Linked DNA regions of Homo sapiens: region 2 is linked to region 1. Evidence: fine-mapped expression QTL. Tissue or cell type: whole blood. Region 1 holds a variant in brackets; the other region holds the start of a gene. All regions are shown on one strand. Distances are between the middles of the regions.

The links. PIP is the estimated chance that this variant, and not a neighbour inherited with it, causes the effect.
Region 2: it holds the start of BTBD9, and the variant in region 1 is fine-mapped to the expression of BTBD9 in whole blood (TOPMed, PIP 0.99).

What each region holds. Positions count from the first base shown.
Region 1 is chr6:38,046,976-38,055,067 of GRCh38, forward strand. The region is part of intron 2 of ZFAND3 (zinc finger AN1-type containing 3); the gene reads left to right. Among named protein-coding and RNA genes, the nearest start is that of ZFAND3, 230 kb to the left of the region's middle. The variant G/T (reference allele first, on the strand shown) is at 3,843.
Region 2 is chr6:38,635,656-38,643,761 of GRCh38, forward strand. BTBD9 (BTB domain containing 9) reads right to left here and starts at 4,274. Exons shown (of 11, transcript NM_001099272.2): 1 at 4,145-4,274. It overlaps LOC105375044 (a long non-coding RNA gene), which reads left to right and starts at 4,740. Exons shown (of 3, transcript XR_926767.4): 1 at 4,740-4,829. RefSeq lists a silencer at 3,937-4,136 and enhancers at 4,236-4,736, 4,537-4,616.

The sequences.
Region 1 (8,092 bases):
AGAGCTAAAGTGTACTGATCTAGTATTATAATTAGTAATGGCTATATGTTTGAAATACGACTTCTGGCCAGGTGCGGTGGTTCACCCCTGTAATCCCAGCATTTTGGGAGGTATGCGGATCACTTGAGGTCAGGAGTTCAAGACCAGCCTGGCCAACATGGTGAAACCCCGTTTCTACTAAAAATACGAAAATTAGCTGAGTGGTGGCACACACTTGTAATCCCAGCTACTCAGGAGGCTGAGGCAGGAGAATCACTTGAACACAGGCGGCGGAGGTTGCAGTGAGCCAAGATCACGCCACTGCACTCCAGCCTGGGCAACAGAGGGAGACTCTGTCTCAAAAAAAAAAAAAAGAAAAGAAATATTACTTCTTTCAAACCCAATCTGACTTTTTCTTTGGCCCTTTTGGTCTGTGATCTGTGATGCTTTGCAGAATATAGTATCTTTATTCCTTTATCTGAGAGGGAAAATGTGCCTATATGCATATACAATATTGCATATAGTTTAATAAGATTACTCAAAATTACATGCAAAAGTTTTCTGTGCACACACACTATGAATCCCAGATTATTGTCCCCACATATTTGGTGCCCCTCCCAGTGTGAGGCTCATACTTCCCTGTCCTGATCATCAGGCTCAGCTACGTGACTTCTTTTAGCCAATAAAATGTTAATGAAAAATTTATTTGGCTTTTATGACCAGAAACTTTAAGAGCTGTTAGGTGGTTCCATTTCTCTTTTCCCTTTGCAGTGATACCAGCAGTGTTCCATTAAGGGCCACTCCTTCATTCTGGGTTCCTGGAATGAAGATACGTGGAGCAGAGCTGCTGTCTACCCTCAGTAGACCTATAATGTGATCAAAACAAATAAACCATTGTTATAAAGCCTGTAGATTATAGGGTCATTCGTTTTTGCAGGTAAATTAGCCTAAGCTGACTGATAATAAGAACCGTAGGTTAAGAAGATCTGTTCCAGACCTAGGTTTTTGGGTTTTTTTTGTTTTTTTTTTTTTTACTTTTTGTGTGTGTTTGTTTATTTATTTATTTTTGCGACAGGGTCTCACTCTGTTGTCCAGGCTGGAGTGCAGTGGTACAGTCATGGCTCATTGCAGCCTCACCCTCCCTGGGCTCAGGTGATCCTCCTACCTCAGCCTCCTGAGTAGCTGGGACTACAGGCGCGCACCATTATGCCTGGCCAATTTTTGTATTTTATGTAGATACAGGGTTTCGCCATGTCCAGGATGGTCTTGAACTCCTGAGCTCAAGCTATCTGCCCACCTCCGCCCCTCAAAGTGCTAGGATTACAGGCATGAGCCACCATGCCCGGCCCCAACATTTTTTTATTGGTCATTAAAAAATATATTCAGGCCGGGCGCGGTGGCTCACATCTGTAATCCCAGCACTTTGGGAGGCCGAGCCGGGCAGATCACGAGGTCAGGAGATCGAGACCATCCTGGCTAACATGGTGAAACCCCGTCTCTACTAAAAATACAAAAAAATTAGCCAGGTGTGGTGGCAGGCACCTATAGTCCGAGCTACTCGGGAGGCTGAGGCAGGAGAATGGCGTGAACCCAGGAGGTGGGGCTTGCAGTGAGCCGAGATCGCGCCACTGCACTCCAGCCTGGGTGACAGAGTGAGACTCCGTCTCAAAAAAAAAAAAATTCAATGCCTGTTTTATGAGGGGCAGCTGCATTATCTGCCATCCTCACAACAATCCTACACAGGTTTTAACGTTTTTGCAGTTGAGGAAACTGAAATAAAAGTAAGTAACTTTCTTATGGTCATGCAGTTTCTAAGTAGCTTAGGCAGGATTCAAACAGGTCTGTCTGATTCTTTGTGTATTATACCTCTAAACTTTCCTGTTTGTTCCTTGCATTTATTTCACATATATCTGATCAATCATTTCTTTACTGATATGCAGAATCAATAATGCAGTTTTCAAAACTTTTATATAATAAGTTCATTTGTCTCTGTTTAAATCAAGGGTCTTACATTTTTGGCTTTCAAGGCACAGACGTCTTGTATTTGGAGGTTTTTATTTTTTTTACATTTGAAATCACATGCCTTTAGGTGAGACTTACACTTGCCAGTTAGCCACAATGACTAGCACTCCCTGTTGTGTTAGGCCACCTAACTTCACACATTCATGATACCCACCTGGTCCCTGAAAACTTTCGTATTTGTATCCCCAGGATTGGCTTGTTAGTGTACATTGTTAATGAAGCCAAAGACTTCGCTATAATTCATACCAGAGAAATTATTTTCATTGCATTAGTCTCAAGCTAGCAACTTTTTAAGAAGTCGGAAGAGGAATAGCAATCATGGTTAATCCAAGATTTACTATATGTCAGGCACCGTTCTAAGACTTCCACATGTATTATCTGATCTGCAAAATAACTTTATTAGGTAGATAGTATTATTATTCTCATTTGTAGGGAGAAAACTAGAGCAAGAGAAGTTAAGTAACTTGCCCAAGGTTACACAGCAATTAAGAAATAGAGCCAGGATTTGAACTCAGGCAGTCTGGTTACACACACCCTACTGGGACAGAGGATATGTAGGTTAGTTGTGCATGAGCTTTTCTCACTAGTGGAGAAAGCTTTTGTATCAGTAGTTGATAGCCTTAATATGGAGATAGATACCTTTTAGGAATTGTGAATTATATAAACATCATGTATTCTGATACCTTGGATTCACTGGATAAAAATTAGTCAGTTAGCCCTAATCTTGGGAAGATCATTGTCATCTTCTCTGAACATCCCCCTGATATGCTTTAATAGATGTAAGAAGAAAGTGTTAGTAAGCCCATCATTTCATCCTTCAAAAAAATATATCTTAGAAGTTTGAACCACTACTTGGTCTTTTACTCTTTGGGAAAGAGATTGACTCTCCTCGCTCCCCCACCCCCACCCCCACCCCCTCCCCCTCACACCCACCCCGTCTTCATTCACCACTTTTGAGTAGGCAATTAATTTTTTTTTTTTTTTTTTTTTTTGGGGGAGACAGAGTCTCTCTCTGTCTCCCAGACTGTAGCACAGTGGTGCAATCTTGGCTTTCTGCAACTTCTGCATCCCAGGTTCAAGCAATTATCATGCGTCAGCCTCCTGAGTAGCTGGGATCACAGGTGCACGTCACCACGCCTGGCTGATTTTTGTATTTTTAGTAGAGATAGGGTTTCACCGTGTTGCCCAGGCTGGTCTTAAACTCCTGACCTCAGTTGATCCACCCACCTCGGCCTTCCAAAGTGCTGGGATTACAAGCGTGAGTCACCGTGCCTGGCCAAGAAGGCAATTCATTCTTTGCTTCTTTTTCCCCTTCTAGAGATGGAGTTTTGAGATGTTACCTAGGCTGGCCTGGAACTCCTGGGCTCAAGCAATCCTCCTACCTCAGCCTTTCTAGTAGCCAGGTGATATGGTTTGGCTGTGTCCCCACCCAAATCTCATCTTGAATTGTAGTTCCCATAATCCCCACATCATGCTGGTGGGAGGTAATTGTATCATGCGGGCGGTTACCCCCATGCCGTTCTCGTGAAAGTGAGTGAGTTCCCATGAGATCTGATGGTTTTATAAGGAACTTTTCCCTGTTTGCTTGGCACTTCTCTCCTGCCACCTTGTGTAGAAGGACATGTTTGCTTCCCCTTCTGCCATGATTCTAAGTTTCCTGAGGCCTTCCCATCCATGTGAAACTGTGAGTCAATTAAACCTCTTTTCTTTATAAGTTACCCAGTCTTGGGTATTTCTTCATAGCAGCATGAGAACGGACTAATACCCTGGGACTATAGGCGTGCACCACTGTGCCCAGCTGACATTCTTAAAATATAACATATTGTATTTCTTGAATTTAA[G/T]CTGAACATTTGCAAGTTTTATCTTAAGGGAAAACGTGTCTCAAAAGTTAATATCACCACTCTAAGTTGAATTTACTGAAACAGATGCAGTGGTCAGCTTAGTAGCAGAGCTTAAATGAAGGAGACCTGAAGATTGGTGGTGTGTGACCCTGGTAGGAGATGATGAGGCTGAGAACTGAGTAGAAATACTCAGGGAGTATTGAGGGAGTATTTAGGGGTAGGAATAGCCCCTTAAGTCAGGAGCTGCCTTTGTGAATAGAGGGAAGCAAGAACGAATAGGACCAGATTGTAAGAGCATACATAGGTGGGCAAGAGCAGTCCCACCACCGCTCTACCCAGTCCCACCACCTAGGCTTTTCCCAGTCCCACCACCATCCTCTCCCTCAAAAGAGAGGTGCAGTGGGAATTATTTTTTTGTCTTTTCTCCTGTCACATCTGCATGGTAAAATGAAAGGCTAATAGCATTAGGACTGTGGATACAATTATAGAAATAATCAGTGATCTAAAAAGGGGGGTGCTAACCTGCTGTTTTTGCTAATTTATTCCCAAATACTTTTCTACTTTTCTATTCTGTTGTCATTGAAGTCTTTATGGGACATTTAAAGCCTTAGGTCTGGGGTAAAATATTGCAGCCTCCAGCCTCTCCAGCAGTTACGTTCATGCCACTTCTGTGCCATTGGAGTAATTCATGAATGACACTAAGGACTAATGGCTTGAGGGGAAGTCTTTAGATTATACCAAGGATCAACTGTAAACAAAGAGAAGTTTTTTGTTTTGTTTTTAGGCTCCAACTTGCCTATTTTATTTTGTCAGCTTTACCCAGTTTTTCCACAATATGCCAAACCCTATCTGTAATTTTGATGGCTGAACTGTATGTATATATGCGCACACAGCATAAAGTGCATATTTTGTTAGAACTAGATTAATGCCACAATATTCAGAAAACTTCTCCCTGTGTTTTCAAAAAATTGACATATTTTGTGGTTAGACTGAAATGAGGTAAATGTACATGTTATTGTAGTACTAATGGATTGTTAGATATTTGCTGTAATGTTAACAGTTAATTTATGCCCTGTAAATGAATATTGAATATGAAACACTGTTACAGGGAAAACTGTATAGTCTGCACAATAAATGCTGTATAGGAAACAAGCCTTACTCCAAATAATTTTTTTTGCTAGTTCACACCTCTGAGTAGTTGGCTCTATAGGTGTGAAGAATCTAGAGAATGTATAATTTCAGTGATAAACTAGATTATAAAGTAAGTTTAATTGCTGAAAAGAGTAAGCTTTGCCAGCTTCATATATTCTCTTGTTGCCTGTTTTTGCAAGACACATTTCAGGATATGCTTTTGGGAGCCAATCTAATGTTACCTGTATTTGCCTCTCGTAAAAATCTTAAGCTTTGTGATTTAAATCTAAGCAAGCAGGAAGTGACTTGAGAGACCTTGTAAGTCCTGTTAGGACCAGTTATCCATGATGAATAATAAGGAAGAAATTTTTATATGTGTGGGGATAATTTATGAAATCCAAACATCTACTTATTGACAGGGTGCTTAATATTTCTCCTGTAGGTAGGAGCACTCTTGCTTCCTATAAATACATTTTGTAGCAATTTAAAATCCATTTTAAATTGTCTGTAAGAGAATTAATATTTTTCAACTTTGTGTGTTCATCAGTATCCAATACGCTAAATTCAGCAAATTTATATTATGTATTATGTGGCAGGCATTTTGCTAGGGGCTGAGGCACACTGTGAATAAGACATTCATTTATCCAACAAATATTTAATAAAGTACCTTCTATGGGTAATCTTAAGGACTTCCCTTAGGAAGTAGTGCTTATATTAAGAGTTCAAATATGAGTAGGATTTACCAAGGTGAATATGAGGATAAAAAAATCTCCCACGTGTCATGATTAAAGCACTCCATGTTGACCGCCGGGCGTGGTGGCTCACGCCTGTAATCCCAGAGTGATTACAGGCACGAGGCTGAGGCAGGGAGATCATTTGAGATCAGGAGTTCGAGCCTGGCCAACATAGTGAAACCTTGTCTCTACTAAAAACACAAAACTTAGGTGTGGTGGTGCACGCCTGCAATCCCAGCTACTTGGGTGGCCAAAGCAGGAGAATTGCTCGAACCCGGGAGGCGGAGGTTGCAGTAAGCCAAGATCGTGCCACTGCACTCTAGCCTGGGCGACAGCGCAAGACTCCATTTCGAAAAAAAAAAAAAAGAAAAAGAAAAAAAAAATAGCACTTCGTGTTGAGAAAGAGCATGGAGTGTCTGAAAAACCAAGAGCACTGGAGATGGCTAAAGCAAGGAGAGGGAGAGGAGGAGCAGTGGCATCAAATGTGGCTGAAGAAATAGCTAGTAGCTGGTTCTAAGTTCTAAGCCATGGTTAGGATTCTGGATCTGGTTGTGAAGGCAATGAGAGACCATTGAAGGGTTTAGGCAGGGAGGTGATGTTATCAGAATTTGTTTTCTTACAATTTTTTTTTTTTTTTGCAATCATTGTGGTTGCTTTGTGGAGAGTAGATCAGACTGAGCCGAGAGAGGACACAAAGATTTCAATTAAGATGTTATCGAGTCTGGGCATGGTGTCTCATTCCTGTAATCCCAGCACTTTGGAAAGCCAAGGCAGGCAGATTGCTTGAGGCTGGAAGTTCGAGACCAGCTTGGCCATCATGGTGAAACCCTGTCTCTACTAAAAATACAAAAATTAGCCACACGTGGTGTTGCACACTGGTAGTTGCAGCTACTCGGGAGGCTGAGGCATGAGAATCGCTTGAACCGAAGAGGCTTGAACTCAGGATGCCAAGGTTGCAGTGAGCCGAGATTGCACCACTACATTCCAGCCTGGATGGCAGAGTGAGACTCTGTCTCAAAATAAAAAAGATGCTATCAAAGGAATCTTATAGATGATGATGGCTTAGACTACAGTGGTAATGGAGAAATAGATGGATTCAAGAGATATTTAGGAGTTGTAAATGACTAGAATGGTAATTTGGGGGATACAAAATTAAGAAGGGAGAATGTGAAGTTCAAGATAATTCCTGGCTTCTGACTATTCTCTATGTGAATGTTGATATCATCTGATGAGATGGGAGGAAGGGCAGAAGACAAGGTCTATTTTTTTTTTTGAGGTATTACTCAAATTGCAGATTCATGGACATAAATAGGGAACATAGGATAGGAGTCATTTATCATCATTAGGATATATACAGGTAGAGGTGTGTGTGTGTATATTGTATGTATATATTTTTAACTTATTTGAAAGGACATAGGCTGAGCATGGTGGCTTACACCTGTAATCCTGGCACTTTGAGATACCAAGGTGGGAGGATCTCTTGAGCCCAGGAGTTTGAGACCAGCTTGGGCAACATAGTGAGACTCCATCTCTATCAAAAAAAAAAAAAAAAAAAATTTAAGGTAGCTCGGTGTGGTGGTGTGCACCTATAGTCCCAGCTACTCAGGAGGCTGAGGTGGGAGCGTCACTTGGGCCCAGGAAGTCGAGGCTGCAGTGAGCCATGTGTGTGCCACTGCACTCCAGCCTGGGTGACAGAGCGAGACCCTGTCTCAAATTAAAAAAAAAAAAAAAACAAGGAAGCACACAAAAACCGTGCAGTGTTATTCAGTCTGTCTATTCTGAGATCAGTGAAGAGAGTCTGATTTTTTAAATTAATAAAAATAATTTTTGAAAGAGAAAAAAATAATAAAAATAATTTTTTTTAAAAAAGAAGATAGTCTGATTTTTAAAGAGAAGGAATCGCCATGAGAGGTTGGGTGAGAATCTGATAGGTAAAGGCGTTTTGCTTTTGCTTTTTAAAGAAGCTAGAAGATAATATTCATGAAAGGACACCTAAGTAAACTTAGCCACATTCAATAGCTCACAAGTCCACATAAGCTACAACATATGCATAAGGTGATAAGGTTTTCATAGTAACCAAGTCCATAAGTGCATTGGTTCTTGCTAACTCCTGTTTAAACAGTTTATTCTTGCTGAGGCTGTTAACCCAGATTAACATCCAACTACCAGAATTTTATTAAGATTTTAATCAGAAGGCTAGAAGTCTGGTTTATGAATTGGCTGGCTACTAATGGCTTTGTAGCTTTTTAAAATAAGATATTTAAGTTTTGCGGTTGAGATGGGGGTGGGGGACAATGCAGCTTTAGAAAACTAGAAATGTTTCTATGAACGGAAGCTGTAGCCTATTATGGACATAAATTGGGTGGAGAGGGGATGGTGAGCAGA
Region 2 (8,106 bases), 590 kb after region 1:
ACCCATGTGATGCCTTCTGCCATGTTATGACACAGCAAGAAGGCCCTCACCAGATACTGGCACATTGATCTGGGACTTCCTAGCCTCCAGAACTATCAGGAAATAAATTTCTGTTCTTTATAAATTAACCAGACTGTTCTTTATAAATTAAACTTAGATCAGTTCTTGTCTTAGTTTGTTTTGTGCTGCCATTATGAAACATAAAATATGAAATAGCAGCACAAAACAAAGACAAGAACTGATCCAAGTTTAAATACTGATTTAAACGTCCAAAAGTTCCATTCACCATCTTTTCCAGTTCTCACTCTCCATTTTTCTGGCATTGGGGCCTCTCCTACTATCTCTACATCTATAACTACTACTAACAATAACAGCAACAGCTGCCATTTATTATATTAAGCATCTATAAGACAGGCATTGTGTTAATCACTGTGCACATAGTACCTTTGTGTTAATCACTGTGCACATGTATAATCTCCACAATTCTTTAATTCAGATAAGAAGCCTAGGCTTAGAGAAGTTAAATAACTTGCCAAAGGTCAGCCAACCAATAAACAGCATAACAGAGATTTGACCTGCCATCTTCCTAACTCCAAAGTCCACTAAGTTAACTACTATACTAACATGCCTCCTAGAAGGTTGCTACTCCCACAGCCTCAGCGGACATCTATATTACAATTGTCCCTAACCATCTCATAAACTCTGAAGTAGCATTTCCAGTTACTTAGTGGATCTCTCTTTTTAAACTCCCCACAGAAACCTCAGAATTAACACTGCCATTATTTCTTCTCTCCACTTCAAACCTGTTCCTCTTCCTGTGATTTCTAACTTAATGTCATCATAAGCAAACAGTTGCTCAAACTAGACATATTATCTTTGACTTCTCACTCTCCCTTACCTCTAGCTGGTCATAAATGTAGAGATTTTAACATCTAAAAATGTCTCCAAAATCTATCCATTCCCATTGTCCAACATTTCTCACCTACACTCTAGTCTCCCTGCCTCTCTACTCTAATGCAATCTGCACACGAACTGTCAACTTTCTGATTATTCTACCTTCTATGGCTCTCCACTGCCAATGGATGGGAGGAGTCTAGACTTTTTAGGATGAAGTGGAAGACCCCCTCATAATTTGGCTCCAAAAACAGCTTCCTGCCTCATCACTTCCCCCATGCAATAAGAAGTGATTAGGCCCTCATGAATGGATGAATGCCATTATAGCAGGAATGGGTTCATTATCTCAGGAATGGGTTCTTGAGATGAGTTCAGCCCTCTCCCCTCTCTTGCCCACAAGAAACAACTCAAGATATTTCCAAAAGCGCTATTTAATTTTAATATTCAGCAACTTTGCTTATGCTGGCCCCTGGAATGCTCTCTTCCACCTCTACATGTGGCGAAATTTTATTTAACCCTCAGAGCTAAGCTCCATCCCCTTCTTCTCAACATGTTCCCTATCAGTTTTTTCTCCAGCCAAAGCACTCTACTCCCCCAGCACATTATTCATTCCAAAAGTGATTAATTTGTCACAGCACATAATGGTTAGTGGTTTATCTCTTCTGATGAACACTTAGTATGCTGAGCATATACTGTGTCTTAACTTCTTTGTCTTCCCAGCACCCAACGAAGTGTCTCGCCATAGCCAGCACCCAGTAAGTATCTGCTGAGTTGTTAAATAATGCAACATTTGCAGTTGTAACTTTACACATCTTGGTTAGCAATTCAACTTCAGGTTTACATACCACTCAAAAGAATTTTCACATAACAGAAGATGTTATAAATAAAGACCAAGGGTTCAATATTCAGCAGCAGGGTCTTTAATTATTCTGAAATCTCTTTGGTCAGTATTTTTAAGCATCGTTCATCAGAAAGACTCCTTTCCCAACTAACATTTGTATATTTTACAGGATCAGCAGTAAAGACAAACCTCAGAGAGATAATCCCAAGCAAAACTATGTCACTGAGTGTGACTGGATGACTATTGGTACATCATTTCAGTAAATTTCCAATACAATGGCCCAAGTACATCAGGTAGATTTTAGATAATGAGACATGCACCACTGACTACCTAAAATACATGCACATTAGTGAGGCATCGATTCCAATTAGTAATTGAAATCAAAAGTATATTAACAACCTGATATTGGTTCAAGCGTAATATCCTTTACTTTCAAGTAAGGATAACACTTATTCTTGTCAAAGACTGTACTCTGATTAATACAACCTCTATCCCACCTTACAAGAAGGCTGTATCTTGTTAACAGTGGGATGCTGATAAGCCCGCCTTAATCCTTAACACTTTGCCTTCCCAACCTGCTAAGCCATCTCTCTCCAGTATTCCCCTATAAGAGACGTTCCGCTCCAGTTACCAGACATAAAAGTCGTCTTGGTATATCCTCCAACAACCAAATTCACATTATTATTTTCTCAGCTCCTGGTTTATTTCCTAACAAATTTTAACTTCTTTCAGAGACCAAGTCAAATCTTGCCTCTTTCAAAGAGTTCCCTAACTCAGCCTACACATCCTATCTTTTCTGATTTTCTACCACATTTATAGTCCTCAAACAGCACTGGTTACCTGCTACTTAACTTGGTTTTATAATTATTTTATACATCTCCTAGCTAGACTACTGCTCTCAAAGGGAAAAAAAAGACAGGTCTTCTATGTCATTTTTCACTCCATAATCCTCCTCCCACACCTATCATGATACTGGGCAGAGGGAGGCACATGTATTAAGTACTTGATGGACTGAACTCAATGCTTTCTATACATAGATACACCACTTGAGCATAGTGTGCTATATAACAAATATCCATTGCATGCCTACTCTGTGGCAAGCACATTTTTCCTATGTGTTAGACATAGGGCAAGGAGGAAAACACAGATGACTCCTGTCCTAAAAGCTATTACAGTGGAGGGAGGAAGACACTTTGAATTCCGAGTAATCTAATAAGTGTTACAAAGCAAGGTTATTACTGGTTCCAAGAGGTAACATACTTTACAGATTCTCAGTTATGAAACAGAATCATAGAATTTTAGACCTAAATGAGAACCTTGAACTTATTTTCCTCTATCCTCTTACACAAAACATTAGATTTCAGTACAGCCTATCTTTTCACTGGTTCTACAAATTGCCTTAATCAACAGAAAGAAAAGACTGGCTTCTTCCCTGTCTCCAATATTCCTCGCTCCCAAGTATGGTAACCACAACCCCTATACATCTACCCATGATAGAGTCCAGAGCACTGAGAAGACAGCACAGGGCTGAGGATGAGCTACACCTTTACATGCTGGGTTCTCCCATCATCAACACTTTCCGCCCACACAGTGAACAGAATCCGTATTTTCTGCCCAGAAAATAGCAGCCTGTACTGCCTTTAGGAAAAACAAACAAAACATGCTTCCATACTTCCTTGGATCTACTAATGACAAAAGCACAACACGGTTCTGGGAAATATAGCAAGATAACTAAGTCTATGAGGAAGTAAGAAATGAGGATGCCTATCAGCACCTTGGTCTCAAAATCTGTAACAACAATGTACTAAAACGCCAAGGAAACACATGCACATACATGTGAAGTTAGAAACTCTAGGCAACAGGTTGGCTGCCCCGGATCTATACTGACAGGTCGCCCTCCCAAGGTCGTGGGTGTGTCTGATGCCGCACGCAGGCACTGATTCACAACTCTCTCCATAACAACCAGCTCCTACTCAGAGGCTGGCCAGGGCAGGGGAGATGAGGGCCCCAGCAGTCCCAAACTTTCCAAACCCCCACCCCGGGGTCCCGGGTTTCGCCTCCTCAGTCCCAGGCAACGTCGTCTCAGACAGGATACGAGACTGCTAGGGAACCTGGGCTGCCCCTGATTCGAACTCCTCTCTTTGGGAGGCTGGTAGAGCCACCCCGAATCCCCGAAACGTCTACTTCCCACTACACCTTCGTGGACTGCGAACGGGACGGCTACCGCTCTCCCAGAGCACCCGGGCCCAAGAAATGACCCTCGTCAGGCCCCGTCCCAGCTCCTCCCCCGCCCCCGGAAAAAGCGGCGGAGGGGCGGGGGGCGGTGCGCGCGGATACGGCGGGGGCGCGCGTCCCCGCGCCGCAGGTGCGGCCAGGCCCCACCTCCCCTGCAAGGACCCGGCTACTCACCCCAGCGATGCTCCTCTGAGACCAAGCTGCGACACAGACGCCTCTTCCGCCCGCTCCGCACCCCTCTCTGCGCCACCGCCCCCTTGGCCGCTTCCGTGGCCGCCGTCCTCGCCGCCGCCCCGGCTGCTGCGGCGCGCGTCCGCTTTCACGCACTCCGCCGTGGCCGCGCACGCGCCACTGCGCGCTGGCGTCACTTAGCAACCGATCGACAGCGGGCTGCTGGGTCCGGCGATGCAGGCCCAGAAAGTCGCCTAAGGCAGCTTCCGCGGCTTTTTCGCATCGGCCCGACCCTCTGCCCCTCCAGAACAGGGGGCCCCAGGGTGTGGCTGCCCTGCCGGCACCTGGCTCCGGGTAAGTCGAGTCACCACACGTCACTGTATGGCGTCACCGGCGCACGTCACTACGGATGAGAAGGTCCTGGGCGCCTGTGGAGTGACCTCGTCCAGACCGCCGCAGACCCGATCGGCAAGTTCTTGGAGGTGCAGGAAGGTTCTCCAAGGAGTAGGACCAGAAAGGGATGAGAGCGCGAGCGCGGTTAATGTCGAGGCTGCTAAGTGATGCTCGTTAATTTCGCAGCAGGGTGTGACTGGCCCAGCCTTGACTCTCAGTTTCCTCTCTCAGTAAATGGGCATAATAATACCGGTCCAGCCTACGCTGGAGAATTGTGAGGTGAAAATGAAATAAGGTATGCAAAGGTACTTTGTAAGTATAAAGCCCATTTGACTTGGTGGCTCAAGCCTGTAATCCCAGCACTTTGGGAGGCCGAGGTGGGCGGATCGCTTGAGCTCAGGAGTTCGACACCAGCCTGGGTAACATAGTGAAACCCCGTCTCTACAAAAAAGACAAAAACTAAATGGGCATGTTGGCGCGCGCCTGTAGTCACAAATGCTCGGGGGGCTGAGGTGGGAGGATCGCTTGAACCTGGGGAGTTCAAGATTGCAGTGAACCGTGATCGCGCCGCTGCACTCCAGCCTCTGCAGTGAGAGCAAGACACTGTCTCAAAAAAATGTATTTATCTATCTACATAGATAAGAGTCCTAGAAATCCGGGTGCAGGTCTGACTGTAGCTGGTGTAGGAAAGTCAGTTATCCCCGACGCTGGAGCAAGCTAGGGGACCGCCCTTGCAGTTGTTGGAGGAGACAAATTGGGAAGGACTTAATTCCGGGCAAAGGAAGCTTCATGAGTAAAAGTAGAAAGTGAAAATGGTCAGGAAAAGCAAGGCTTGGGGCAGGGAGACCCATTTTTAGGCCATTGCAGTACTCCAGACAAGTGATAAGAACATTAAACAAGGCATTGGCAGTGGGAATAGAGGAGGGGATAGATGTTAGCGCCATTAAGGTGGTAGAATTCACAGCACTGAGTGCGGATAAATGAGTAGGCCAGGTTTCTAGCATGAGTGCTGAGGTAGACAGTGGTAACATTTAGCAAGATGGCAAGCTACATGAGTCTTGATTATCCACAAGTGTCTAAGTTACTATTATAGATAGTGATGGTGACATTTCTTAGGAGGATGACCAGATATGTGGAGTATGATGATGAGTTCAAATATGGATATGTTTGTTAGGGAAACATTTACTCTCCATTCACAATGTCTTTCTTCCATATGGAATGATATCCATTAGTGTAATACTCTCCTGGTTTCTCTTATACCTGTCTGCAACTCACTCTTGCCTAGAGGAGTGACTTCCTGATTGGTGAACTTAAATGGGAGAAACTGGACATGTGGCATCTATCCCATTCTTTTTCTCTTAAAAGATAACTATCTTCAGGGAACTGTCCTGGTGTTCTTTTCCGTTTCTTCTGGAGCAGGGCCTGTGGGTAGGGACAAGGGTGCCTAGTCCAGGGCTACAAAGAGAGTATATGTATTTAATTCCAGAGTTTGGCATTAGGAAGCTGTCTGTCCACAGATAATATTTAATACCAGCTTTGTCAGCTGTGTTACACAGAATAATGATCCCCCCCAACCAAAAAAAAAAGGATGACCACACCCTAATACTCAGAACCCATGAATATGTTATATTATGTGGCAAAAGGGACTTTGCAGATATGATTAAATGATGTATCTAGGGAGATTATCCTGGATTGTCTGACTGGGCTGGAGGCAGGAGGGTCAGAGTCAGAGAAGGAGATGTGATGATGGAAGCAGAGGTCAGACAGAGATTTGAAGATGCTATACTGTTGGCTTTGAAGATGGACCCAAGAAACGCAAGCAAATTGTAGATGCGGGAGAAGGCAAGGAAATGGATTCTTCTCTAGCACCCTAAGAACACAGCCCTGCCAACACCTTGATTTTAGGACTTCTGACTTCTAGAACTGCGAGATAAGAAACTTGTATGTTTTAAGGTACCAAGTTTGTGCTAACTTGTTACAACAGCAATAGGAAACTGATACAGTCAGTAATAAAGATAATAGTTGGTTTCCTGCAGCTTTCTCCATTACCTGGAAAAGAAGGGTACAATTCAGTAGGTCCCCTCAGAGACTATAGCAATATGACTGTGACCTGATGGAACCTCCACATCTAGAGAAAAATGTCCAATAAACACTCAAACTGTACAGGTCTATGAATGAGGAAAGAGGTTGAGTTAAAATAGATTTGGAAGAAATAAATTAATAATTGGTAATTTAAGCCCGAGGCATGGATGAGATCAATCAGGGAGAAAATACAGAAGACATAATAAGGAGAGGCAAGGATAGGGCCCCTGGAGAGCACTAACTTTAAAAGGAGGTGCAGATGATCAGAAGCCCAAAAAGAAGTCTGAGGAAGAATGGCCAGAGAGAGAAAAGGAGAACTAGGTGAGCCTAATGCCTCTGAAGCCAAGCAAGCAAGATGGAGAGGGGTCAACAGAGTCAGAGACCACAAAAAGGCCAAGTATATCAAGAACTGGAAAGCATTCACTGGATTTAGCAACAGAAAAGTGATTGGTAACCAACAATAGCAAACTTCAGTGGGATAGTGGAGATAGATACCAAATCACTGAGATCTGAAAGGCAGATCAATATAGTGGATTGGCCTCTAGACTAGTTTGATGGGAGTTTTGAGATTCTAGTCTTGATTCTGGCCATTAACTAGCTAGATAACTTTGAACAAATCCCTCAACTACTCCAGGCTTTGGTTTTCGCATCTGGCAAAGGATGAGATCAAGCTGAGTCTATGATTTTCTCATTAATTCCTAGATAATCCCCCCAGTTTTATTTTTTTATTTTTTGTCATATCTGATTCAATACTTTTATTTATTTTTATTTTTTATTTTTGAGACAGCATCTTGCTCTGTTGCCCAGTGTGGAGTGCAGTGGTACAATCTTGGCTCACTGCAGCCTCAACCCCCGGGCTCAATCACCCCAATTTCATATCAGACTCACTTGCTTATAACAGCACACTTCAAATCCTTCTCAGACCATTTTCCAACCACTAAGAATCAGTATATTTCATGCCAGCTTCTGTCCTAGATACTATGGCTATAACACAGTTTTCAAGGAACTCACAATTTGGAGAGAGAGAGAGAAATACTAAGTATGTAACTAGCTGTCATAGTTCTTTAAAAAAAAAAAAAGAAAAAAAAGTAAGGCCAGGCGCGGTGGCTTATGCCTGTAATCCTAGCACTTTGGGAGGCCGAGGCGGGTAGATCACCTGAGGTCAAGAGTTTGAGATCAGCCTGACCAATATGATGAAAACCCGTCTCTACTGAAAATACAAAAATTAGCCGGGCATGGTGGCATATGCCATCATCCCAGCTACTCAGGAGGCTGAGACAGGAGAATCACTTGAATCCGGGAGGCAGAGGTTGTGTAGAGCCAAGATCTCGCCATTGGACTCCAGCCTGGGCAACAAGAGCAAAACTCTGTCTCAAAAAAAAAATTAAAATAAGTAAATAAATAAAAATAAAAAATAATAAGATAGACCTGATTGTGGTGGCTCATGCCCCGTAATCCCAGTGCTTTGGAAGGCCAAAATGGGAAGATCA